3 separate regions of the Homo sapiens genome follow, and all the other regions are linked to region 1. Evidence: fine-mapped expression QTL. A gene starts in region 1. Each other region holds a variant in brackets. All regions are shown on one strand. Distances are from middle to middle. Region 1 holds the start of DHCR7-DT (DHCR7 divergent transcript). Region 2 overlaps NADSYN1 (NAD synthetase 1). Region 3 overlaps SHANK2 (SH3 and multiple ankyrin repeat domains 2).

Region 1 (8,178 bases):
TGGAGTCTTGGCCCAGATGTCCGAGAGCCGAGCATGTCCGGTGACGATGTCCACCACAGGGCCAGTCAGGGCGCAGCTGTACTGGTCACAAGCCATGATGAAGTAGTAGACGATGAAGGGGGCGAACAGCAGTAGGAAGATGACGCTCGCCAGTGAAAACCAGTCCACCTCCCTGCGAGGACGGATGCAGGCAGTCACACTGGGGCCCATCTGCCCTGGGCCCCACCAGGACCCTAAGAGGCTCTGTGTGGGAGAACTGTTGCTCAAACCCACCAGTACCCCATGACAGAAGGCATTAGCTCCTAGCACGGGCCCTCCTTGCGGCCAGGGAAGCCACTCAACATGCCTGCTCTACTGTAGTTGATTAACTGGTGGCACTATCTGTGGCCCCCATGGAAGGCCCAGAGCTCAGAATATGAGCGGAGGTAGGTCTTTCACAACCACCAAGGCCAGTGGTTTCCCCAGTTCCAGGTCGGAGAGGATACTCACCCTGCACGAAGTCCCCATGGTTCTATGGCGAAATGGGAGCTGTGACAATAGGTCATACCCCCAGATGGTGGGAAGGCCCCAGCTGCCCTTTAAGCCTTTATCTTTTTTTCTAAGTTGTTGACTGACCATGATTTCTAGTTTCTTTTTATAATTCCTTACTTTATAAAGTGGAAAACTGTTTACCTTTCATTAGTCTTGACAAAAAAAAAAAAATCTTTTTTAAAAAGGTCCTTCATTCCTTTGGGTCCATACAATTCCAAAGGCTGGAAAGCTCTGAGACCACACTTTACTTTCTAGCTGGGAGAACAGGCAAGATCCTTACCAGGCACGGCCCCACTGCCCTTGAGATGCGGTTCTGTCATTGGTGACGCCATCTAGACTCTTGGCTTTGGGAATGTTGGGTTGCGATTTTGCAGCCATTGGGCCCTGCAAGAAAGAGAACCTTGCTTACATTATCCCTCAAATAACAGACACCACCTTTCCCTGTTGCATCCACCACTGCTCCTGGGCCTGGCAGGGCTGGCCTCCTGTGCACATCTTCCCGGTACCTTGTTCCTGACAGCAGATTCCAGGCAGGGAAGAGATCATCTTGTCTTAGACTCTCTTCCTTGGACCCTGCAATCACCTCCCACGTGACCTTGCTATGGCTGCTCTTGCTAGTCTCAGTTCATTCTCCAAACATGGCAGAATGCCCCCCCTCTTACAGCACAAGCTGGCTCCTGCCTCCCTCCTACACACCACTCTCCCCTATTCTCCTTTGGCTCCAGGAACACAGGGGTCTTCACTCATCCTTGAACACAGTTTAAATTGTCTGTGGCACTGACTTCCTCTGCTTAGAGCACGTTTGCAGGTGTCCTTGTTCAGGGCTCATGTAAAATGTCCCCTCCTGGGGAGATCTTCCCTCTCAGCCAATCTGAAGCAGCTGCTCCCCAGCTTCCCTGCCAAGGCCCTCCACTGGGTACTTTATTTTCTTAGTAACTCTCCCCATCGCCTAGAAGTATTCATTTGTGTGTGTGTATTGTCTGTCTCCCCTCACTAGAATGTAAGCTTCCCAAGGGCAGGAATTGTGTGTCCTCTTCATTGTTCTACTACCAGGGCCTAGAACAGTGGCCCATGTAGGACCATCAATAATCACCCTTCAAAAAAAAGGGGAAGAGAACACAGAATGTCTCTAGGTACCCACAGCTGCTCTACATGGTTATAATTTGGGGGAAGCAGTGACATCCCCACTTCCAGAACAAGTTCATAACTGTGAAGCTTTAAAATATCTGAGATTTTTTAAAAGATGCTCTTGAAAGCTTTTAGAGAAAAAACAGGAGTAAAAATCACAGTAGGCTTAGATTTCTCAACAGCAAGCTGGATTCTAGAAGACAATGATGAAAAACTTCAAAATTTTGAGGAAAACTTTTTGCAACCTAGAATTCTACTCCTATGTGAACTATTACTCAAGGACAACAACATAGGATCCAGGAAACTGGAGACCCAAGAGAGCTGCTGAAGCCATGTCCACAAAAGGGCAGGGGCAAGTCCCAAGAGGACAGCTATGCAGCAGGACTAACCAGAAACCAGTCCACATTGGTACAAGATGAATGGCTAGGAAAGAGAGGAAATGAAAATGATGAATTTTGTTGCATCTGAATGTGTAGGAAAATTATTGATATATGTGACAGCTCGGTTAGAGCATCCAGAAAAAAATGAATGAGAGATGCATAGAAACCTTACCAAATGAAAAAAAAAAAAAAAAAAAAAGGAAGGCAACTGTTAACTCCAGGAAAAATAAAAAGTCATATAAGGAAGGAAAAAAAGAAACCAAGCCATTATTATAGGACCTTACTTGGCTCAACAGTGAATAATGGTAATTTTGTCATAACAATGTATACTCTGACTATTTATTGACTATTGTATGCACAGAAGGGAATTTGCAAAGTTAGGGGTACTAAAAGGAAATTACTTAGAAACAAGTAGGTACAAACAACAACACAAAAGTAGCTGAAAGAATGAAAAGTGTTTGCTGCTGGCAAGCAAGACTGTCGGATGTGGGATGTGGTAGAGAGTATTTCTTCTGAAGCCTTTTAACACTGATTTTTAAAAAAATGTGTGCATGAATTACTTTAATAAAAATTCACACACATTTAAAAAATTTCAACGATGAAAGACATTTTCCTTATGCAGTGTGAGAACTTCAGTACCCGCACTTCATTCAATTTACACAAGTTAGTTTATGCAGTTCCTATGATGCACAAAACAAGACGAAGAGTTCTTGATAGGAAGAGACCGTGTCTCTCTCCGGCCCCAAATACTGAATACAGAGCCTGGCGAGTGCCAGTCACTCTCCTTATATCTGTAAAATCAAAGTGGATGAAAGAAAACTACTTCTGAGAAAAGCTGACACGCTAGTGAGTCTGATCTCAAGATCACAGCCACCTGGACAAGCTGGCTTGCTTTAGACAGTTCCTCTCCCCCAGGCTCTCATCAAGGTAAGATACAAGCTTAGTTTCTTCCCAGCCAAAACTTACCAGCTCAGTGCCCCCACTCCCTCCGATCCCTAGTTCCCACACTGACTGGTGTTAATCCAGACCACCCACATGCACACTTGCCTTACAGGAAGGCTAAGTAGAATGGGGTGGCATTCGTCTTGCCCCAAGCCATGGATAAGCTACAAGGGGACAATGCCTGGTACCAACATTATCAATTATGTAAAACACTGGGAAATTGCAAAAGGGTCAGGGGATGTGTAACCTCAGAACTAAAGTGTGAAAAAGCCACTGGGAGAATGTTGTCAAAAGGGATTAAAACAAGACCAAAGAAGTACTTTTAGCTTATTACAGAGTTCATTCACCCAGGAGTCAGCTCTTTAGCCACAAGCATTGAGTTGTGCAATAAACATCTAAGTAACATCCTTCCCAATAGACGGCTGGGAACAGACAAAGGGGAGGTGCCCTGGTATGTTGTATTTTACTCATAAGAGGCACAGACAGTCGTTGGCACTCGAGAGCTGGTGGACCAGTCTGTCTGTACTTTCAACGCTGTGAAGCCATAGCCTGCGCCCACGATCCAGGGCACTGAGATACACTTACCTCCAGCCTCTTGCCAAATAGTTTCACAGCAGAAGGGAACTTTTCCTTCTTGAACCGGCCCCTTAAAAGTTTCTAGACACCTGTGCTCCAAATGCCTGCTTGATCCTTCTCAACCGGCTAAAGTCCTGCAAGGAACACAAAAATGAATAAGACCGCAGGCAGCTGACATTTCAGGAGAGGGCAGAAGCTCAAGGCCCACAGTAGGAGTCAAGCAAGAGGCAGAAGGTCCAGTGCTCAGGGCTTCAACAGCCGCATGTCAGGGAGGACGGCGGACAAGCCAGTCCCATCGCAAAGCTGCTGTGCCTGGCTCAGCACTGACAAAGAGGGAGGCGAACAACAGGTGGGGCAGGAGAAAGAGCCGCCGCGGAGCGCGGCATGGGGCCAGGAGCCGACCCCGGAGCCAGGCAGCCTTCGCCCGGGGAAGCTCCAGACAGCGCGGGGACAGAGCATCCCTCAGACGCCGGCTCGTGGGGGAGGGGGACTATCCACGCCTCCGCCCCGCCTCCCCGGAGCCCCAGCGGCCCCTCGCCTGTGAGCTGGACCCTCTCCCCACCTGCGCGCACGCCCCCTACCCCTGACCCCACCCTCGCCCTGTGAGTGGGCACCTGCTCACCTGGGCAAGCGCCCCCCACTGCGCACACCTTCCCCTGGCCTCACCTGCGCACACCTTGGCCACTCACCTGCGCACACCTCGGCCCCTCACCTGCGCCCACCTTCCCCTGGCCTCGCTTGCGCGCGCTGCTCCACGCCGCCTACCCTCTAGCCAGGGGTCGGAGTCACCCGCAGGGCAGGGGCGCCCGCCCCCGGATGATGTCAGCGATTGCCTGCCAATCGGAGGCGGACCCTGCACGCCCGGCGGCTCCGCGCCCCGTGATTGGTCGAGGAGCCTGAGCTGACTCCGGGCCCACCGCGCCCGCCATTCGGCAGCGGCCGGACTCGAGATTGACGGCCCAGGCCCCGCCCTGCCGCCCCACCGGCCCGCCCGGGCCCTAGTGGGTGGGCGCAGCCTCTGGCGCTTCTTCGGGATCCCAGCTGACCAGCTGGGGGTGGGGCGTGGCGGAGTGGCCACGTGGGCCGCGCGGAGAACGCGCCAGGCTCATCACCTGGATCATCGTGCCTCAGTTTCCCCCTCGGCAAATGGGGCTTCAGCGGCTCGCGACGCACATTGATGGAGCGTATGTCCAGGCGCCGGTGCACCGCAAGGAGCAAAACAGACACAGTTCTTGGTCCTAGGGCTCACGTCCCGGGGCGAAGAGGATCCTCCATAAACGATCAGGTAAACACATGGGTGTCAGGGAAGGCTCGCCGCTGGGAGACCGCCAAAGTGACCCGAGATGGAGTCTGGGTGGCCTGCTTATTAGGGGGGCACACCTGTGCGAGGACGGGAGGGGAGGGAGCAGCAGGACTGGGCAAAGGGAGAAGCTGAGCCACAGTGCGAGCCGGACGCACGGGCCACGTTGCGAGGGCATGACCTGGGGCGAGGCAGCCCTGGAGGAGGGGGCAGCTGAAGGTGTCTGCTGACCCCACACCCAACAGCTCGGGTAACAGGCCTTACTGTCAGAGCGATCTGGTTGCCACGTCTCTGTGGCCCTCAGAGAGACATCATGTTTTCTTTTTTCCCTGCACCTTTTTGTTTTGAAAAATGTTCAGCATACAAACAAGTTGAACGTAAAGTGAGCACGCAGATTCCTAGGTTCAGCAGGGGTGAGCAGCTGGCCACGTTTCATTTCTCTCCCTCTGTGTTTATATATGTGTATTTTTCTTTTTTCCTCCCCACTCAGCCCCCACCATTAGCTGCAGATACCGTGATACCCCCCTCCCAAATACTTCGGTATCCAACTCCTTAAGAACAAGAACCTCCTATATTACCAAAATACAATGACCACATCAGTTCAATGCTGTTATCTATTTTCCATCTCCAGTTTCCCGCGGTTGTCCCAATAATGCCCTTTACAGCCCTTTTGTTATTGTTGTTTTGTTTTGCTTTGTTAAGACGGGGGTCTCTGTCACACAGGCTGGAGTGTAGTGGCACGATCACAGCTCACTGCAGCCTTGAACTGCTGGGCTCAAGCGATTCTCTTCCCTCACCCTCCTGAGTAGCTGGGACTACAAGAGCACACCACCACACGCTATTTTTTTTTTGGTAGAGATGGGTGGGGGGGGGGGTCTCACTATGTTCCCCAAGCTGGTCTCGAACTCCTGGGCTCAAGCGATCCACCCACTGTGGCCTCCTACAGTGCTGGGACTACAGGTGTGAAGCTCTGCCCTACAGCCCTTTTTTAAACCCCAGGATCTAATCAGGGAGCCACACTGTGCATTCAGGCTATGCACTTTTTTTGGCAGGATAATATACTACATAGAGCATGTTTTATCTTGTTAGAAGGCTGTCAACCTGAAATAACCAAACAGGTCAGAATTTAGCTTAAAGAGAGTTTATTTAAGTGTATAAAGTTTGAGGACAGGCTGCCTGGGAAGCACAGATTTTAAAGAATGGAAATCAGTATTTTGAACTGTAGATGTTTGGGATCATTTATGTAGACAAATTTTAGGGAAGTTTAACAGAATTTTAACATCTTTTTATGCATAAAGTTATAATCTGACCAGCTGAGGTGGTCTTTTTTAGGTGGAAGGTATATTTAACATTTTACACTGAAGATGTAGGAGTCTGGTCTAAGTACGGGATAATAAGAGACAATCTATAATAAAGATCAGTAATTAAAAGGGGAGCAGGCCTGGTCTGTGGTCTCTCCTAGTCATTTATAAAACATGAATGATAAAGAAAAACAGCCTATAATCTAAAAGACAAAATTACAAACATGCTATGTGACCCAGTTTCTAGGACTTAACTTCCCTCTTGACATAATAAATTTATTTATTTTTATTTATTTATTTAAAGACAGGATCTTGCTCTGTTGCCCAAGTTGACCTAATAAATTTCAAGAGTCCTAAAATTTTCTTTTTTAAGACAACATATCACTGTGCTCCATGATTGATAGTGGGGCTCCGTGGTTTCTGCCAGAAGTCTCCATTTTTCCTTTTGTTATTAATGAGTAATTGGTGCAGTGATACTTTGAGACTGTAAATATGCTGTTCCCAAATGACCTTTCACCCAGTGAACTAGCATTTAATGAGGAATCTTGCCTGAATCCCTTATTTCTTGGGACAAAGTGTTAATTTTCTAATTTTATCATTCCCTCAACATTTATTAATAAATTATTTATTAGCAAGCATTCTTCTGTAGGGATTTCCTCTTTGATTTATTTTTTATCAGTATGCCCTAATGGATTTAGCTGACCGAGTTATGATCCTTACTGTATTGTCCTGTATTTAGCTAACGGGAGCCCCTTCAAATTGGCTTCTTTTTTCATATGACATGTATCTACCATCCTTTGAGTACTTACTTATTTTCTGGGACAACCAGATGTTCAAGGATCCTCCCCTTCTCTGCCCAGGCCTGGCATCAGCCATTGTTGGCAGGAGATAATTTGAGCAGATCGTGTGGATTTCAGAAGCATGAAAACTACTGTGAGGATTAAATAAGTTAGCATGTATAACATTCTGGTGCTTTTGTGGAGTTTCCAAATTGTCATGAACAAGCACTACTTTATAGACAGGAAAAAAAGTGATTCAAAATGTGAAAACGGGTATATGTACATAAGGTAAAAATAAAATCCTAAGCCCCCCATTGACCAAAGGGACCTTCTCCTGACCAAGGGGACACCAGAAAAACCTCAACACTGAATTCCCAGACATGATGGGATGGGAGGTCAGATGCGCCTGGTAATAGCCCCCTGTTTCAGAGTTTGGACACCACAACTGGCCGGCATTCATGTTAAAACAGAGATCGTAAGACTGACAGAACGGACTCTGTGGCAATAAGATACCAAATTATAAACAGGACCCAAAGCCATGCTAGGCGAGGGTAAGTCAGGCAACCCACACTTAGAGAATAAACTATATTCTAAGAGCCACAAGGCTTTCTGTTTCTCTATTAGCCAAACACACACTAGCCTTGGGATAGGGAATATTAAAACAATTGCAGCTCCACTAGGTGCCAACTAACTGACTCTGTTTCACCAGCCATAGCAGCTGTGATTGGACAAGAGACTGATTTCAGTGACTTTCTCCTAATAAGAGACCACCGACCAGCTGACCATGCCGACCAGCTGACCCGTTAATAGAGAGAGATGATGCACCTGCATGCCTTTGTGTCCTGAAAAGACGTTTTGCCATAAAGGCCCTAATTGTAAGATGTGTAAATGTTAAGTCTCCACCCCAAAGTGAACATGGGTCATATATTACATGCTTTGCTCAATAAGAGGGCATGTGTCAGGACCACCTTCATGAATATTCATAGCTCCTCCTGTTACCTGTTGAATATGTATGTTTAGCCAATCCCTTCAGCATAGCGCTCCTGCCCCAACCCCTCCTCCTTGGACGTGCCTGTCTCTGGCCTTGGCTGGAGACAGATTCCCAGCCTCAGACAGATGGCCGCCACCTTGCAGGCTACGACCGTTTACAAGAAATAAAGCCTTCTCTTTTTCCAAATTTGTGAATTGTGTGTTTTTAAACTAACATGAATGACAGAAGGAAGGATGGCCTCTTCAAGCAA
Region 2 (8,178 bases), 56 kb after region 1:
GACATGAGGAAAACCCGCCTGTGCTGAGCTAGAGGCCACAAGATGCCGCTTTATACCTCATGATCGGTGACAGCATCTCTGAGCAGGTGGCCTGTAAAACGAGGGTGGATCAGTGGCAGGGGTTCTACATCTGGGACCGTTGACCCCCCGAGGAGACATTAGGCGATGACTGGAGATGATTTTGGTTATCATGACTGGGCTGGGGTCTGTGCTCCCAGCATCCCGTGGGTGGAGCCCAGGGATGCTGCTGAATGTCCTACTGTGTGCAGGATGGGCCCCTCCCAACCCCACACCCAGCAGAGAATTCTTTGTTCCACGTGTTGGTGGTGCCAAGGTTGAGGAATGCTGAACATTTGGGACTAGAAGACGTTTGGGGCTGCATGGTTGTAAGGAAGAGATACTGTATCTGGCTGATTTCCGTGGAAAGGAACTTGCTCAAAGAGTGACTTAGAGGGTGGAAGGGAGGGCAGGGGTCACAGGGTCTGGAAAGCTGGGACTCAGGCCAGGTGGCTGCTGCCCTATATCCCCTGCTGTGGCTGGACGGAGCCCACACGCCACACCCAGCCTGGGCTGGATGCCAATCTGCTCTGCCATCCCTGAGTCCCAGTGTCCCTGGGTCACCAGGCAGTGGAGTGGCCAAGCCTCGGGTGATGGGCCCTGTCATCTGGCCACCCAGGGCAGGAGAGGGAGCTGCCCCAGCTCTGGCCTCTGTAGTGGGAGGTGGGGGCTTGGCTCCCACCAAGATGTACTCAGGGGCGGGCTCCCCCAGATCAGGAAGGGGGTTCAGACACTATGCAGCCAAAAGAGTGACGCATGTGGGAGCATCAGAGACAGCTGCAGGTAAAGGTGGAGACGCTGCTGTCATCTGCAGTGACAGCTATGCGTGATCTGGACCCGCCCCTCCAGGCTTTTCCAGCACACACGCCCAGCATCTGGTGGGGACTCTGGTAATTTACTTTTTCACCTCTGGGACTTGTGACCCGCTTTTGGTGCGTGCCAGTGTTTCAACAGCCCCACAGTCCGTCTTTGCGGGGCTGTGGTGTCACAGGCCTCTCTTTCCAGGTGCTACAGCTCGAGAGGGCAGAGCCACAGTCCCTGGACGGCGTGGACTGAGGCCGGTTCCTTCCTGGAGGCCTCCTGTCCTCGGGGACCCCAGCACCTCATCATCAGCATTGCTGGAGCCAAGGGTAGGAGCCCTACACTAGGAGCCCAGGATGGGACGGCGCATCAGCCGAGAGGGAGGGAACTTTTCAGTCAAATTCCTCAAAAAGAGGCTGGAATAAAGCCTGGGCTTAAAAAGAGGCTGGAATCCAATGCACATGATTTTGACCTCCCGCCAGCGTGCGCTTCCCCGCGAAGTCTGGCATTCTCCGAAGGAAGCCGCCTGGGTAGGAGGGTTCCAACCGCCGCCCCGTGTGGCATCTTTGCTGCAGGAACAAGAACAGTAGCTCCCGGGAAGGGAGGGGTGTCATGAGCAGAAAATGAAGGAGAGAAGACCTTCTCTCCCACCCACACACACCTTCCTGTCCTGGGTTCCAGAAGGTTCTGGGGAGATGGTCCCTGCAGAGCTTTCTTCCTGGGAGTCTGGGGACCAGTCGGCCTTACTCCTGTCCTGTGGGAGAACCACCCCATCTAGGCATGGGGCCAGGTGTGGGGCAGGGGCGTGGCACTGTGGGTCCCCCTTCCTGCTGATCTTCATGCCATTCTGGGCACCTTTGTCTCTTTATGGAATGGGGTGAGGAGCGGCTTTTCTGTCCTCTCCAGAGCTCCCCTTGGTCCTGGAACCCTCTCTCCCGGGTTGCCCCAGGGAGTCTCAGCCTCCCATCCTTGCAGGGTGAAGATGAGACGAAGATGGGTGCACAGGCCAGAGCCTCCAGGGGAGTGGAGTGGGTTTGGGATCTGTGCTGCCCACCGGGTGTCCGCTCTTTCTCTCCCCCATGTCTGGCCCCTCTGCCTGGGACACTCCTGCTTCCCAGCCTCACCTAGAGCCCCACACCAAACCCAGGGCCCGGGCTGGGACACAGACCACAGCTGAGGGTGAATTTCCCAGGAGGTGCTGTCGGGATAGCAGAAAGTGGGGGACACTCGGCAGGTGCTGTCTGGATAGTAGAAAGTGGGGGGCACTCGGCAGGTGCTGTCTGGATAGTAGAAAGTGGGGAGCACTCGGCAGGTGCTGTCGAGATAGTAGAGAGTGGGGGCACTCGGCAGGTGCTCTCTGGATAGCAGAAAGTGGGGGGCACTCGGCAGGTACTGTCGGGATAGTAGAGAGTGGGGGACACTCAGCAGGTGCTGTCTGGATAGCAGAAAGTGGGGGGCACTCGGCAGGTGCTGTTGGGATAGTAGAAAGTGGGGGGCACTCAGCAGGTGCTGTTGTGATAGAGAGTGGGGGGCACTCGGCAGGTGCTGTCTGGATAGTAGAAAGTGGGGGGCACTCGGCAGGTGCTGTCGGGATAGTAGAGAGTGGGGGGCACTCGGCAGGTGCTGTCTGGATAGTAGAAAGTGGGGGGGGGGCACTCGGCAGGTGCTGTTGGGATAGTAGAAAGTGGGGGGCACTCGGCAGGTGCTGTCGGGATAGTAGAGAGTGGGGGGCACTCGGCAGGTGCTGTCTGGATAGTAGAAAGTGGCGGGCACTCGGCAGGTGCTGTTGGGATAGTAGAAAGTGGGGGGCACTCAGCAGGTGCTGTTGGGATAGTAGAAAGTAGGGGGCACTCAGCAGGTGCTGTCGGGATAGCAGAAAGTGGGGGGCACCCGGCAGGTGCTGTCGGGATAGTAGAGAGTGGGGGGCACTCGGCAGGTGCTGTCAGGCGGAGTGGTCACCACCGTTGTTGTCTTCTCCGTCACTTCCTCCAGAGTCTGTTACCCACGTCACATCGTGGATGCCCCCTGCCCGGATAGGTCTGAGTGCACTGGGGTGGCCGGCACCCCACACCTTCTCAGGGAGCACCCAGCAGGATACCTGAGATTCTCCTTAGGCCTTGGATGGGAGCTGGAGGCTTCTGGCTGCCTCCTGCACCCCAGATGTGTGGCAACGGGGTGGGGAGTGTGTCACCCGAAAGATGATCAGGTGAGGCTGGGACCCTGAAGGCAGCCCCATCCTGTGGAATTACCCTCGGAGGCTCCAAAACTTCCCACCTGCAGGAACTGAGCTCAGGGGCACCAGACCCTGGTCCCCAACCTTCAAGTTATAGGGTGGTGTCCCCCAGTTACAGGGCAGTGTCCCCAGTTACAGGATACTGTCCCTCAGTCATAGGTTAGTATCTTCTGGTTACAGGATAGCATCCCGTCAGTTACAGGGCAGTGTCCCCCCAGTCATAGCATAGTGTATCCCCAAGTTACAGGGTAGTGTCCCCAGTTATAAGGCAATGTTCCCCCATTATAGTGTCCCCAGTTATGAGGTAATGTCTCCCAGTTACAGGGTAATGTCCCCCAGTTATAGGGTGATGTCCCCACAGTTATAGGGTGATGTCCCCACAGTTATAGGGTGATGTCCCCACAGTTACAGGTGAATGTCCCCCCAGTTATAGGGTGATGTCCCCCAGTTATAGGTGAATGTCTCCCCAGTTATAGGGTAAGTCCCCACAGTTATAGGGTGACGTCCATCAGTTATAGGGCAATGTCTCCCCAGTTACTGGGCTGTGTCCCCCAATTACAGGGCAATGTCCCCTCATAGTGTCTCCCAGTTATACAGTATTGTCCCCCCATTATAAGGTAGTATCCCCAGTTACTAGATAGTGTCCCCCAGTAACAGGATAATGTCCCCCAATTGCAGGGCAATGTCCCCCATTATAGTGTCCCCAAGTTATAAGCTGGAGTCCCCCAGTAACAGGATAATAGGATAGTGTTCCCCAGTACAGGGCAGTGTCCCCAGTTACTCACTAGTGTCCCCTAGTAACAGGGCAGTGTCCACCCAGATACAGCCTAGTGTCCCTCAGTTACACAATAGTGTGTCCCCCAGTGGTAGGACAGTCTACTACTGAGTCCTCCTGGCATGAGTCGAGCTGAGATTAGGATAGGGTAATGACCCTTCAGTTTTGGGGAAGGGACCAGAGCTCGGCCAGTGAGAAGCTTCCAGCTC[C/T]GTCTGGCCATATCCAGGCTGCTGAGGGTCCTGGGCTCTGTCCTTAAACCTCATCACTGACATGACCCAGCAAACCTCCTCAAGAGGAAAAAGTCCCCTTGGGTCAAACACAGCTTGTGCAGTTCTCGGGGACCTCCTCCTGCCATCCTGGGGATGCTGTGGAGAATGGAGATGCACAGGGGGCTTTGTCCTCTCCTCTGCCTTTTGGAGAAAATATTTCACTCAAGGCAAACGCAGCCTGAGGGCAGCACAGGGGACCCCAAGGCTCACTGCGCATTTCTAGTCGCCCCCAAACGCGTGGGTTTTCCTCCTGTTCTCCTCGTGGGTGCCTTTGCTCATTCTCATCCTCCTGTTCTCATCCAGTCTGCCCAGTCTGACCGGCTCCCAGCAGCATCCGCCCAAAAGTTTCTCCCATGACAGCAGGAAGCAGCCTCAGACAATACATGATGGACAGGCCTGGCTGTGTTCCAATAGAACCCCGAGTCAGTCAGCCCGAGCCTCCCTCTCAGCTGGATACTGTTAATGACAGGGGTACACATTCCCCTCCCCTTTCCAATGTTTTAAAACTCTAGGACAGTGATTCTCAAACACTTTGGTCTCAAAACCCCTAAGAGCATTTGCTTATGTGGCTTTTATCTGTTGATAGTTGCTACCTGAGAAATTAAAACTGAGAAATCTAAAAATAGATTTATTTTAGGAAGTCACTAAAAATAATAAGCCCATTGCATGTTAACATGAAATAGCATATTTTTACAAAAAAATAAATTTTCTAAAAACAAAACATCTAAGTGAGAAGAGTGGCATTGTTGTACTTGTTTTGCAAATCTTTTCAGTGTCCGGTTTATGAGATGACAGCACTTTGGTTTGTTGCCAACCATTCACTTATAAAGAAACCCTTTTCCAATAATTAGCTGGGGCTGGTGCTAGAGCAATACCAGAAGTTCAGCGATGTCTGTAGATTTGTCCAAATGTATGTGAAGAGACTGTGTTTACTCAGTTTTTATGTTTGCAGTTAAATCTTCAATTTGATGAGTTATTTTATCATTGCAAAGTGGCAGTGTCAGGGTTTCCTTTATTGACTTATCCAGCAGGCATTCAGCTATATCAACTCTACATATGAAGTAAGGAGTTGAATTAAGCAGAGTAGTTAATAAAAAGCTTTTTTTTTTCATGTTTTAAAAATGTGACGTTGTCAGGCCTCTGAGCCCAAGCTAAGCCATCATGTCCTCTGTAACCTGCACGTACACATCCAGATGGCCGGTTCCTGCCTTAACTGATGACATTCCACCACAAAAGAAGTGAAAATGGCCTGTTCCTGCCTTAACTGATGACACTATCTTGTGAAATTCCTTCTCCTGGCTCATCCTGGCTCAAAAGCTCCCCTACTGAGCACCTTGTGACCTCCACTCCTGTCTGCCAGAGAACAACCCCCCTTTGACTGTAATTTTCCTTTACCTACCCAAATCTTATAAAACGGCCCCACCCCTATCTCCTTTCGCTGACTCTTTTCAGACTCAGCCCGCCTGCACCCAGGTGAAATAAACAGCCTTGTTGCTCACACAAAGCCTGTTTGGTGGTCTCTTCACACCGATGCGAGTGAAAACTGTTTTATTTCTACCCGCAGGCGGGGCCTGCCAGAGGAGGTAGGTGTGCTGGGCTCAGGGGACGTGTGGGCTGTGAGGAGGAGATGGTGACAGGAAGCTGGAAGGAAAGGGGGTGGCTTTGGAGGCCAGGCCGAAGGGGCCCTCAGGTCTGCTTGTAGGGTGGGATAGCCTTGAGGAGGGAGTCATGGCAATGCACAGCCAGGCTGCCAATTTTGAATTAAGAAATTCTTGGAAATCTAGCTGCCTGTTACTGTTGACATCCAGTCTTTTCGTCATGCAGTCAAGGACACTGCGGTCCTTCTGCTTCTTTGTGACGGCAGCCTCTTCTGTGTTCATGAAGCTTAGGAACTCCGTCTTGGAGAGAGCAGTTGTAACCATCCTCTCCAGGATCCTTCTGGAAAACAGCAATCAGGGACTCAATGCACCACTCAGTCTCTGCAGGGCTGGAGATTTTTGCCAGGTTGTAGCTGAGTGAGGCATGGGAGGCTGTACTTGGGAGTGGTGTGGAGACCTCTGGTAAAAAGCTTTTGAAAAGGATGATTCTATTCCATTAGGATTGGCTTATATGAGGGGAAAAATAGGATTGTATATAGTTAAAGAAAAAACAATTCATTGGCCCATGTCAGATCTAACAAATCAAAACACATGGAAGCTGTGGCGTCCTAATCAGGGAAAAGGAGCCAGGGTGGCAGGACCAAGGGAAAGCAAAAAGAGAAAGCAGATAAGCTACAAGTCTGCATTTCTTCACAGTCCAGCACACACAGCCCTCCTGTGCATATAGCTCACAATCTTCCCATGCCCAGGTATCACCAGACCCTCAGCTGATAGAAAAATGCAAGTTAGCTCACTGCAACCTTGGCATTGTAGGTATTGTATGCAGCCCTCTTCAGCACATGGCCCAGGAACCATCCTGTAAAATCCCCTGCAAGCCTTTGTCTCCTTGCAGTCAGCTCCTCTTCTCCTGGCCTGCCCATTGCCTTCTTGCAATGTACTTCCTTCCTTTCTTTAATAAATCTGCCTTTTTTTAAAACCTACAAGTTTCTTGGTAAACTCTTTTACCCCTGTGACACCAGCCTCAGATAGTCGCCATCACCCACCATAGAAGCTACTCCTGGAGAGCTGATTATTTTTAATTTGCAGATAATTTATTCGTGTATTTTTCAAATACGTATTGCGACTCCTCTTCTGGTTCTGATGGAACAGCTCATATTTGAGCTACAGAATCACTGAGAACAAGTAGGAAAGCCAGAAAAAATTAACACAAAACAGCAGTTGAAAGCACTAGAGAGAAACCCAGGTGTCCAGGACAGGAGGTGCCTGGATCCTGGTGAGAAGGGAAATGAATGCATCAGGTGCCAGCGCTCCACTCTCCTCCCGTGGGGCCTCTGCCCATTCGTTAGCGACAGAGAGAACAAGAGCACAAGCAGAAAGCAGCTGAGGCATTGGCAGTTCCTTCCGAAAATCAGACTTTAGGGTGACAAAGGCAGCCAGAGCTTGCAGGGCAAAGCTTCCAGGGAAAAGAAGAGCTCAGAGAAGTGAGTCCAGTGTGCAGCAGCTCCTCTTCCCTTGAAGATTATGAAACTGCCTGGGGAAAGAGGACAAGGAGCTAAGCAAAAAGCATCCATGAAGAGCCTTTAAAGCAAAACAGAGATTATGGAGGTTTTGTAGCTCTGGAAAATAAATATTTAATTTTAGGATTAATAAGAAAGGGCTTGGTAAAAACTTAAGGCTTTCTATTGAAACCCCTCAAGACTATATACTGGGAGAAGTACAGGCCAGAAATAGAGACTCCTTCACAAAGAATAAAGCCTGGCCTCTTATCTTACTGCCTCACTGGATCAATGTGATCTGCTGCTTGTCTAACTGTTTCGCAGAAGGAAAACAAATGGTCTCTGCAAGAAAGTAACATCACTCAAAACCTTTCTCAGTTTTTTATACTCTTTATCTGGTATTCAATAAAAGATCACTAGGAACTCTATAAAAATATACTTAAAATGTAATATAAATCATAATACATACAAAGCTATAAAAATATATTCAAAATATCAAACCCAACATAAGCAGAAGAAGAAAAAAATCCAGATAAGAACAGAAATCAGTGAAATTAGAGACAAAAAATAGAGAAAATAAATGAGACAAAAATCTAGTTCTTTAAAAAAAATCAGTAAAATTAACAAACCTCTTGCTAGACCAACAAAGAAAAAAAAGAGAGGATACAAGGATACAAACTATAAGCTTCAGGAATGGATACCAAGTTTGGGGATATCACTACAGACCCCACAGACATGAACCGGATAATGAGCAAACGGTGCAAGCAACTCTACACATAGAAATTCAACAGCTTATGTGAAGCAGACCAACTCCTCAAAAAGCACAAACTACCAACATTCAGCCAGGACAAAATAGATAATTTGGATAGCTCTATAATTATTAGGGGAATTGAATGTGTAGTTTTAAAATGCCAAAAGAAAGTTGGAATTTTAAATTTTCAGATGCAGA
Region 3 (8,178 bases), 770 kb before region 1:
TTGCTGTGAGTGCAGGAAGGGACTGTTGATGACTTTTCCTTCATTCGTTAATTAAAATGACAGGCCAAGCCTGCCCCATCTGTCTGTCTCAAAGCTCGCCCACAAAGACCATGCTGGCGGGCCATGGGACAGGCCACAGGGGTCTCCTTGTGAGGCAAGTTCCCAAGTCCCTCTGGTGGGGGTGGGGAGTAGATGGCCCCACAGCTACAAAACCAGAAATGTCCTCCTCTCCCGGGAACCAGACTCAGTGTGACAGTCACCTGATGTCCTGGGCTTTGTAGGGAAGGCTGATTCTAGGGCTGGGGGCCCACCTGCAGCCCGTGGTCCCCCCACCAGGATCACCTGCCCAACCTGGATGGCACAGAGCTGTTGAGTGGGAGGCCATGAGAAACCCAGGCCAGGCCCATGCCGGAGGAGAAGGCCACTGCTGCCGTCCACCCCTGGCCACCAACCTCCCTCCACTCACTAGGGCCACTGAAAAGTTTGCTTCTCTTCCAAGTGCTGATGCTTCATTAAGAGACTGGTGTCACCAGAGGGGCAGTTGTAAAAACAGTTAAAAGTAGGAGGCTCATATAATTTGGCTATCTGTCCCCTCCAAATCCCATGGTGAAATTTGATCCCAATGTTGTTGGTGGGGCCTGGTGGGAGCTGTTTGGGTTATGGGAGTGGATTCCTCATGAATGGCTTGGTTCCATTCTCCCGGGGCTGAGAGAGTTCTTACTCCTAGTTCCCACAAGATCTGATTGTTAAACAGAGTCTGGCACTTTCCTCTTCTCTCTCTTTCCTCCTCTCTTGCCATGTGATGCCAGCTCCCCTTAGCCTTCCGCCATGAGTGGAAGCTTCCTGAAGCTCTCACCAGAAGCAGATGCTGGCACCATGCTTCCTGGGCAGCCTGCAGAACTGTGAGCCAAAGAAACCTCTTTTCTTTATCAATTACCCAGGCTCAGGCATCCATTACTGCAATGCAGCTGAACTAAGATAGAGGCTGACACATTGTAATGGGAAGTATTTTAATGATGTCCCCTTTTTTTTTTTTGAGACGGAGTTTTGCTCTTTTTACTTGCCAGCTTGGCATGATCTTGGCTCACTGCAACCTCCAACTCCCAGGTTCAAGTGATTCTCTGACCTCAGCCTCCCAAGTAGCTGTAATTATGGGAGCCCGCCACCAGGCCTGTCTACTTTTTGTATTTTTAGTACAGACGGGGTTTTGCCATGTTGGCCAGGCTGGTCTCGAACTCCTGACCTCAGGTAATTGGCCTGCCTCGGCCTCCCAAAGTGTTGGGATTAGAGGCGTGAGCCACAATGTCCAGCCAATGATGTCCTTTGGAAGGGGTTCTGCAAATGTTCTAGACCAGGCAACGGCCCAGAGAGTGAACATTCCAGGCTTTGAGGGTGGATGGGTGGTCCCTGTTGCAACTACTCACTCTGCTAGTTGTGGCACAGAGGCAGCCATGACAATATGTAAATGATGGGTGGGGCTGTGTTCCAATAAAACTTTATTTACAAAAACAGGCAATGGGCCAGATTTGGCCTGTGGGCTGCAGTTTCTAAAGATAGGCTCTAAATATTCTAACGACATTTAAGTCCACACAAATAATACATGTACATGGCATATAACTATGTATAATAAAAACTAAGAAAAGTCTCAATCTTGCTGCAGAAGCCATGCTGACATTACTGTGTACAGGTGTGCCTGGCTTGATGTAACACCTGAGCTCTGGAAAAGAGGCAAGGAGAACGCGTTTTAGAAATGAGATCATCTGTGAGATGCCTGAGAGGTTCAGAAGGATCACATGGGGAGTACTTTCTGGAAAACAAAGAAACACCTCTTTACTTTGTCTAGGTTTTTATGCTCTGGTTGGCTCCAAGTGGGGATAGACCTGAATTCTGGCTTAATGAGTAATAATTCATAATTAGAGTAATTAGTGTAATTATTATGCTACGGCCTTTGAGCACCTTCCACACACCAGGCGTTGTTCTAAGTGTTCTGTGGGTTTAACTAATTGAATCCTCATAATGACCGTATGAGGCAGGAGCTGTGATGACGCTCACTTTACAGGGGAGCAAATAAAGCAGAGAGGTTGAGTGATTTGCACCAGAACACAGGGCTGGAGGCAAAGCCAGGCTGTCTGAACCACTGTGGGTTACTGAACGATAGTGATACTGAAGCACTGTTGATTCCTGGCCAGGTGGGGGCCAGTTCCCCGACAGCTCACAGCCCTCCCAACCCAGACAATGACAGAGAGAAAGGAAAGAACCCTCAGGGGAGGCGTTGGTCCTAGCAGCATGTTCTGGAGAAAGAACTGGAGAAGGAATTGGTGATTTACTGTCCTGCCAGTATCTGAGCTGCTGGGAGGGCACCCTGGGATGCTCTGAGAAGATTTTGCCAGGAGATCCTGCTCTGTATCAAAAAATTTGAAATTGGAAATGGTGGACCAAATGCTGGGCTGGGTAATGCCAGGGAGGAAGGACACGGTGGGGTGAGCAAGGCCAAAGGCAAAGCAAGGCCCCACACCTAAAAATGGGTGCAGGAACATCTGGATAAACGTTTACAGTTCACACCCCATGCTGGTTATGGCTGTGTTTTATGATTCCCATCTCAATGAACTGGCAATGTGTCAGAAGACAAGGCATCTCCTGGGCACAGCAGGTGTGTGCTGGTCTGTGGTTCACACTTTTACTCCCACCTACAACACTCTATACCTGCTATCTCTATCAGTTGAACTCCTATTCATTCTTCAAAGCGCACTGCAATAGCCACCACTTCCAAGAGGACCTTAATGCTGTCCCTCACGTGACACTGTGTGCTTAGAGGGAGGGGACTAAGTCTTCTTTCTCCACCACACCCAGCTCCTGTCACAGACTCTGGCACTCTTCCCAGCTTGCTGCCTGCTGCAGCGACTGGAAAAGCCAGACACTTGCTATTGCAGCCTTTCCTGCAGTTATGGATGGTCATGACCCTATGGAATAGTTTTGGCCAAGGAGACCCAAGGCCAAGCGGACCCGAGGTCTGCTGGGACCTCTGGGAAAGGCTGGACTATTTGGAAAGGGAGTGGGGGTTGGGGAACTGCTCCCTGGCACCCCCTCCTTTACGTTCCTGAGTAGGACGTGCTATGGGGACATCATACTTGGAGCTATGGCTGCCATCTTGCCACCATGAGGGAGAGGCCAAGAGGCCTTCAGAGATGTCACTGCCCGTGCAATGGATGCTAGCTGTGCCCTCCTCTGGACTCGCCATTGTGGTCTCAGCCACTGTGAGTGAGGTTTTTTATTACTTGCAGCCAAATGCTTTCTAATGAACATAATGTGAATATTTGGAGCTTGGAGTGAGGGGGCAGGGTAGTTATTAATTAGAAGATACGGGCAAAACACTGGGATGGCTTCCTGACAACTTAAGAGGTCTCCGAGTTATATTCTGGGTTGGGAAACACTGACCCAGCCCTTATTCCTTCAAGGACTCTAGTCATTGGCAAGGAGGATTCATGAGCCCCAGTGACACAGATGGGGGCCCTGCTCTATATTCAACTGTCCAGAGAAGATCTAGTCACAACCCCTCATCTCAAATGAACTTTGGTTCAGAAAACAGAACTAAGGAAAAGTGGTTTCCTTGGACTCAACCGGTCTGAATTTCCCACTAACCACAACACTGACTTCCTGAGCAAGCTGGCTAATCCCACGTATACAGGCAATTACTTGTACATCACAGGGCTGGGGACAACACACACCAAGGCTGAGAAATCTCTAAAAAGCCAAGTGAAGTAAAGGGAGACAGAGTTTAGGTACAGAGGGGAACTTAGCAACGGAGTGGATCAGAAGATACAGCCAAGGCCCACGGTCTGGTCTGGACCTGATGAGTGGATGTCTGAGGCCAGACGCTGCCTCTGCTAATGGGTCCCTCTGCTAGACCTGAGGACCAGCCTGTCCACAGACTGGGCTTCCAGACACCCCAGACAAGCCACACAGTTGCAAAGTCTTTGTCATTCAATGCATCCAGCTGAGCGGCCAACATCCTCCTCCTGGATTCAGCACGTGGTGCCGAGTCTCCTCTATCCTTTAAGTGTTCCTAGAACCCGGGCCACCACCCACGATTCTGAAAATTAGCCTCGCTCGAATGAAACCCTGCCTTCCCTCTGACCTTCCATGACACCACTGATGCCCTGTCTTTGTGACCGGACCCTTGGCCACAGCATGGGGGCTGAAGCGTCTCCCAATGAGGTAAAGGTAAGGCTGGTTGCCCCTGGACAACCCTGCTCATTGCACCCACCCAAGGAAGTCCACCATTAATATGACCACGTCCACTGCTGAGATGACCTCCAAGAAGCGGGCAGGCAGGGAACCCTCAGAGCACCAGGTCCAACACAGCACGTCCCACCAGAAGCCCTGTTGAGGGCTCCGGAAGCCAGGCTCCCCCTGAGCCCGAGATGCCCACTCCCTCTCACACTGCTCTGCACTCGACCACCAAAGCCAGGGTCCTTGCGTACCCATTTCCCAGATGTGTGCAAACTTCTCGCTGAGGAAGACACATCTTAAGAACGAGCTGCTTGTCCCAGTTGTAGGCTCGCTCCTTCTTTTTGCAGAAGGTTCCAGCCCTCTGTTCCCTTCCACCAT[C/A]TCCACTGGCATCCTCACTGCCATTTCCCATGGTGTCCAGTTCATTTATTTTGTTAGGGGGCCCCCTCCAAAGACAAAAGACAACCCCTTGCACCAATTTTCCCAGGTCTTCAGCCCCAGCCAGTTTCTCACTTTAAATCTTCCCCATTCTCCAGGACTTCCTGATTTCCTTCTCATTTTCCTTCTTGTTCTTTTGTTGTGTTGTTGTTTGTTTGTTTTTGAAACAGAGTCTCACTCTGTCACCCAGGCTGGAGTGCAGTGGCACGATCTTGGCTCACTGCAACCTTCACCTCCTGGGCTCAAGCAATTCTTCTGCCTCGGCCTCCTGGGTGGGAATACAGGCATGCGCCACCAGGCCCAGCTAATTTTTGTAGAGATGGGGTCTCGCTTTGTTGCCCAGGCTGGTCTCAAACTCCAGGGCTCAAGGAATCCTGATGCCTCAGCCTCCCAAGGTGCTGGGATTCCAGGCATGAGCCACCACGCCCAGCCTCCTGCCTGTTCTTTATTAAAGCTGGAGTTATCTGTCCTGCCTCTCCCTGCCTCTCCCTGCCTCTCGACCTGCTCATTTCCAGTCTGCTAAGAACAGGCTTTTTTTTTTTTTTTTTTTTTTTGAGATGGAGTCTTGCTCTATCACCCAGGCTGGAGAGCAGTGCAGTGGTGTGATCTCAGCTCACTGCAACCTCCACCTCCCGGGTTCAAGTGATTCTCCAGCCTCAGCCTCCCAAGTAGCTGGGACTATAGGTGTGCACCACCACACCCAGCTAATTTTTGTATTTTTAGTAGAGACAGGGTTTCACCATGTTGGCCAGGTTGGTCTCAAATTCCTGACCTTGTGATCCGCCCGCCTCGGCCTCCTGAAGTGCTAGGATTACAGGCATGACCCACTGCGCCCAGCCCAGAACTGGTATTTTTCTAACTGCGAACTGTTTGGTCCATGCCCCTGACCCCAAGTCCAGGCTGCACAGGTATTCATTTGCCTTGACATACATCCTCCAGATATCCCCAGGTTACCTCCAAGCTCCAACACACTCACTCTCCTTAGCCAGGGGATCTCAGCATGCTCGCTAGGACAACCTTCCTCCCCCGCCCTCACATGACTGGGAAGAAGAAGACACCAGGCCCGTAACAGGTGACGGCACGGGGTCATCCGTGCAAATGCAGGTAGTAAAACACGGCTGACCGCAACGCTGGGCTCTGGCAGGCCGGGTACGCACACCATGCCAAGCCCCATGGGGAGCCCCTGCCCTCATTCTCTCTCTCACACAACACACTGTGGAGGGAGGCACCATTTTCTTTCCCATTTTACAAACAAGGAAGCTGCGGCTCAGAAAGGTCCAGTGAGGAGCTCAAGGTCACACAGCTGGCAAATGGCGGAGCTGGGCATCCAACCCCCGAGGCCAACTGCAGAGCCTGTTCCCACCACCAGCAGCCAGCCAGCCCCCTTTTGAGGAGCAGGGCAGGCCTATCCCCGGACCATCAGGGAGGTGGGAGATCTCCCTGCACCCTCGGCCCCCTCTTTTGGGGTGTGCACCTGCCTGGGGCAGTCCCTCTGTGCCTGGCAGCAGCGGAGGCTTCCAGCCATCAGCTGTCTCCCCATGACCAGTACAAAGGGCTGTGTCCCATTCCCCTGTGCTGGGGAGAAGTGGGTCAGGGCTGGGCCTGGGTCCTGCCGAGGAACAGAGGGCACCTCCACTGAACGGGAGGCTTGGGAGGCCCGGTGCCATCTGTCGTGCTGACTATACGCCCCAGGGCCTGGAACGGTGTCTGGCGCATTTTGGGGTATCATGAGGATGTCTGTGGCCTGAGCAACAGAGGCCACCGCTGCCCGCTGCCACACCCCAGCCAGGCCCTCTGGCCCATGGAGTGACAACTAGAACCGGTGCCCCTCCCTCGGGACCCTGGACGTCCACCTGCCAACAGTTGTGTGATCCATTCCCAAATCCACAGAGCCCAGGGTGACTGTGGCCTTTGGGGCTGCACAGTCCCTTCCCAGACCCCTGTGATCACTGTGACTGGAAATGACTTGGGGTCCCACGGAGGCCGACGGGTGGGACAGGGGTCGGTGGAGCAGGCAGCATGCAGTCTGCACAGTCTGAGAGAGGCGGCATTTCCTGTCCTTTTCTACTGCATGTCTTGGCCCTGGGGAAGGGAGCAGAACTCCTGCAGCCTCGGTTTCTCCATCTGTAACGTGGGGCCATCGCACCCCATCCCAGGGAGTTACACACTCACAGCTAATGTCGGCCAAAACAGCCTCTGTCAGAGCGGGTTCTCAACCTCTTCAGTCTATGCATTGAATGCTTGCAAGCACTCTGTGAGTGTCCTGTGACGGCTGTAACAACGTAACACAAACTTGGCAGCTAGACACATTTAGCCTCTTACAGTTCTGGGGGTCCGAGGTCTCACTGGGCTAAGACTGAGGTGTTGGAGGGCGGGCTCCCCACCCAGGCTCCAGAGGAGGGGCTGCTTGTGTTCTCTGGTTTCTAGTGGCCACCACGTTCCCTGACCCATGATCATTCCTCAGATCACTCCAGCCTCCGCTCCCATCGTCCCAGCTCCCCACTCTCTGCCTCTGACCCCCTGCCCTCTGATGAGGATCCCTGTGATGGCACAGGGCCCACCTGCATTCGCCAGGACCATCTCCTAATCCACCACCAGCTGATTAGCTGACAAGTCCCCCTCTGAAGCTTCATTCCCCTTGGCCGGGTGAAGTCACACACTCACAGGCCCCAGGGGTTAGGACATGGATGTCTCTGGGCTCCACAGTTCACTTGGCCATGCCACCCCAGCCTCTCTCTCTTTCCCTGGTGAGGCTCAAGGTGGATGAGGCTTTAATATGGAGTGGGGGTGTTTTCAACAATCTTTCGCAGATTGTGGGCTGACTCATCCAACTGCAGGCACCGTCCTCCTTGTGGGGACTCTCAACAGGATGCAGGCACACCTCAGATTGGGCACCAGCAAGCAAGCAGGCAGGTCCTGCGGCCGAGATACTCCCACACTCTTCCTAGTAAATCACACTCTCCCTGGGTGTGAACCATCCCCGTCAATGCTCAGACCACAGGCCAGTACCCACTTAAAAGGCAACTGGCTCTGGGGTGCTGGTGGCCCAGCTGACAGGTGCCCTGACTTGCAGGAGGACTCAGAGGACACTGGCTGCTCGGGGATGCCTCTGCATCTGTGCCTTGGGGCTGCCGGCACCTGCTGGGAGGGTCCTGCCTCTTGAAGCACACAGCGGCACCGGCTCTGCCAAGTCCCCCGTTCTCTCTCTGCTGCTCAGCGTGGGGTCCCTTTTCTCTTGGCAAAGTCTGACGGCGGAAACCCCCTGAATAAACAGCTCCTGCACAGAGATGTTTCTCCGCGGCTCAGGATTCGCACTGGAGGAGAATTCAGAAGTCCAAGCCCATCATTTGATGCTGCCAAATTTCCGCCAGCCTCAGCGGTAACCTTCTCTGGCAAGGTTAAAGGGTCTATCAGATTCCCGGCCCAGAAACTAATTAGATAAAGAGGAAACCTGGGCCCCCTGGGGTATCTCCTCAAAGGCCGAAAGGTGCACATCCACCACATCCACCCCAC

The links. PIP is the estimated chance that this variant, and not a neighbour inherited with it, causes the effect.
Region 2: its variant is fine-mapped to the expression of DHCR7-DT in whole blood (TOPMed, PIP above 0.99).
Region 3: its variant is fine-mapped to the expression of DHCR7-DT in testis (GTEx, PIP 0.96).

The regions. Positions count from the first base shown.
Region 1 is chr11:71,444,044-71,452,221 of GRCh38, forward strand. It overlaps DHCR7-DT (DHCR7 divergent transcript), which reads left to right and starts at 4,485. Exons shown (of 2, transcript NR_186309.1): 1 at 4,485-4,842; 2 at 7,647-8,114. It overlaps DHCR7 (7-dehydrocholesterol reductase), which reads right to left and starts at 4,350. Exons shown (of 9, transcript NM_001360.3): 1 at 4,247-4,350; 2 at 3,567-3,691; 3 at 812-915; 4 at 1-172. The coding sequence starts at 909. RefSeq lists a silencer at 4,017-4,656 and enhancers at 4,382-4,883, 7,829-7,878, 7,999-8,078.
Region 2 is chr11:71,500,240-71,508,417 of GRCh38, forward strand. It overlaps NADSYN1 (NAD synthetase 1), which reads left to right. Exons shown (of 21, transcript NM_018161.5): 21 at 1,063-1,577. The coding sequence ends at 1,113. It also overlaps the pseudogene S100A11P3. Among named protein-coding and RNA genes, the nearest start is that of KRTAP5-7, 23 kb to the right of the region's middle. RefSeq lists enhancers at 504-1,191, 5,132-5,722. The variant C/T (reference allele first, on the strand shown) is at 4,076.
Region 3 is chr11:70,673,337-70,681,514 of GRCh38, forward strand. All of the region lies in intron 15 of SHANK2 (SH3 and multiple ankyrin repeat domains 2), which reads right to left. Among named protein-coding and RNA genes, the nearest start is that of SHANK2-AS1, 51 kb to the left of the region's middle. RefSeq lists enhancers at 1-333, 7,048-7,811, 7,812-8,178. The variant C/A (reference allele first, on the strand shown) is at 4,609.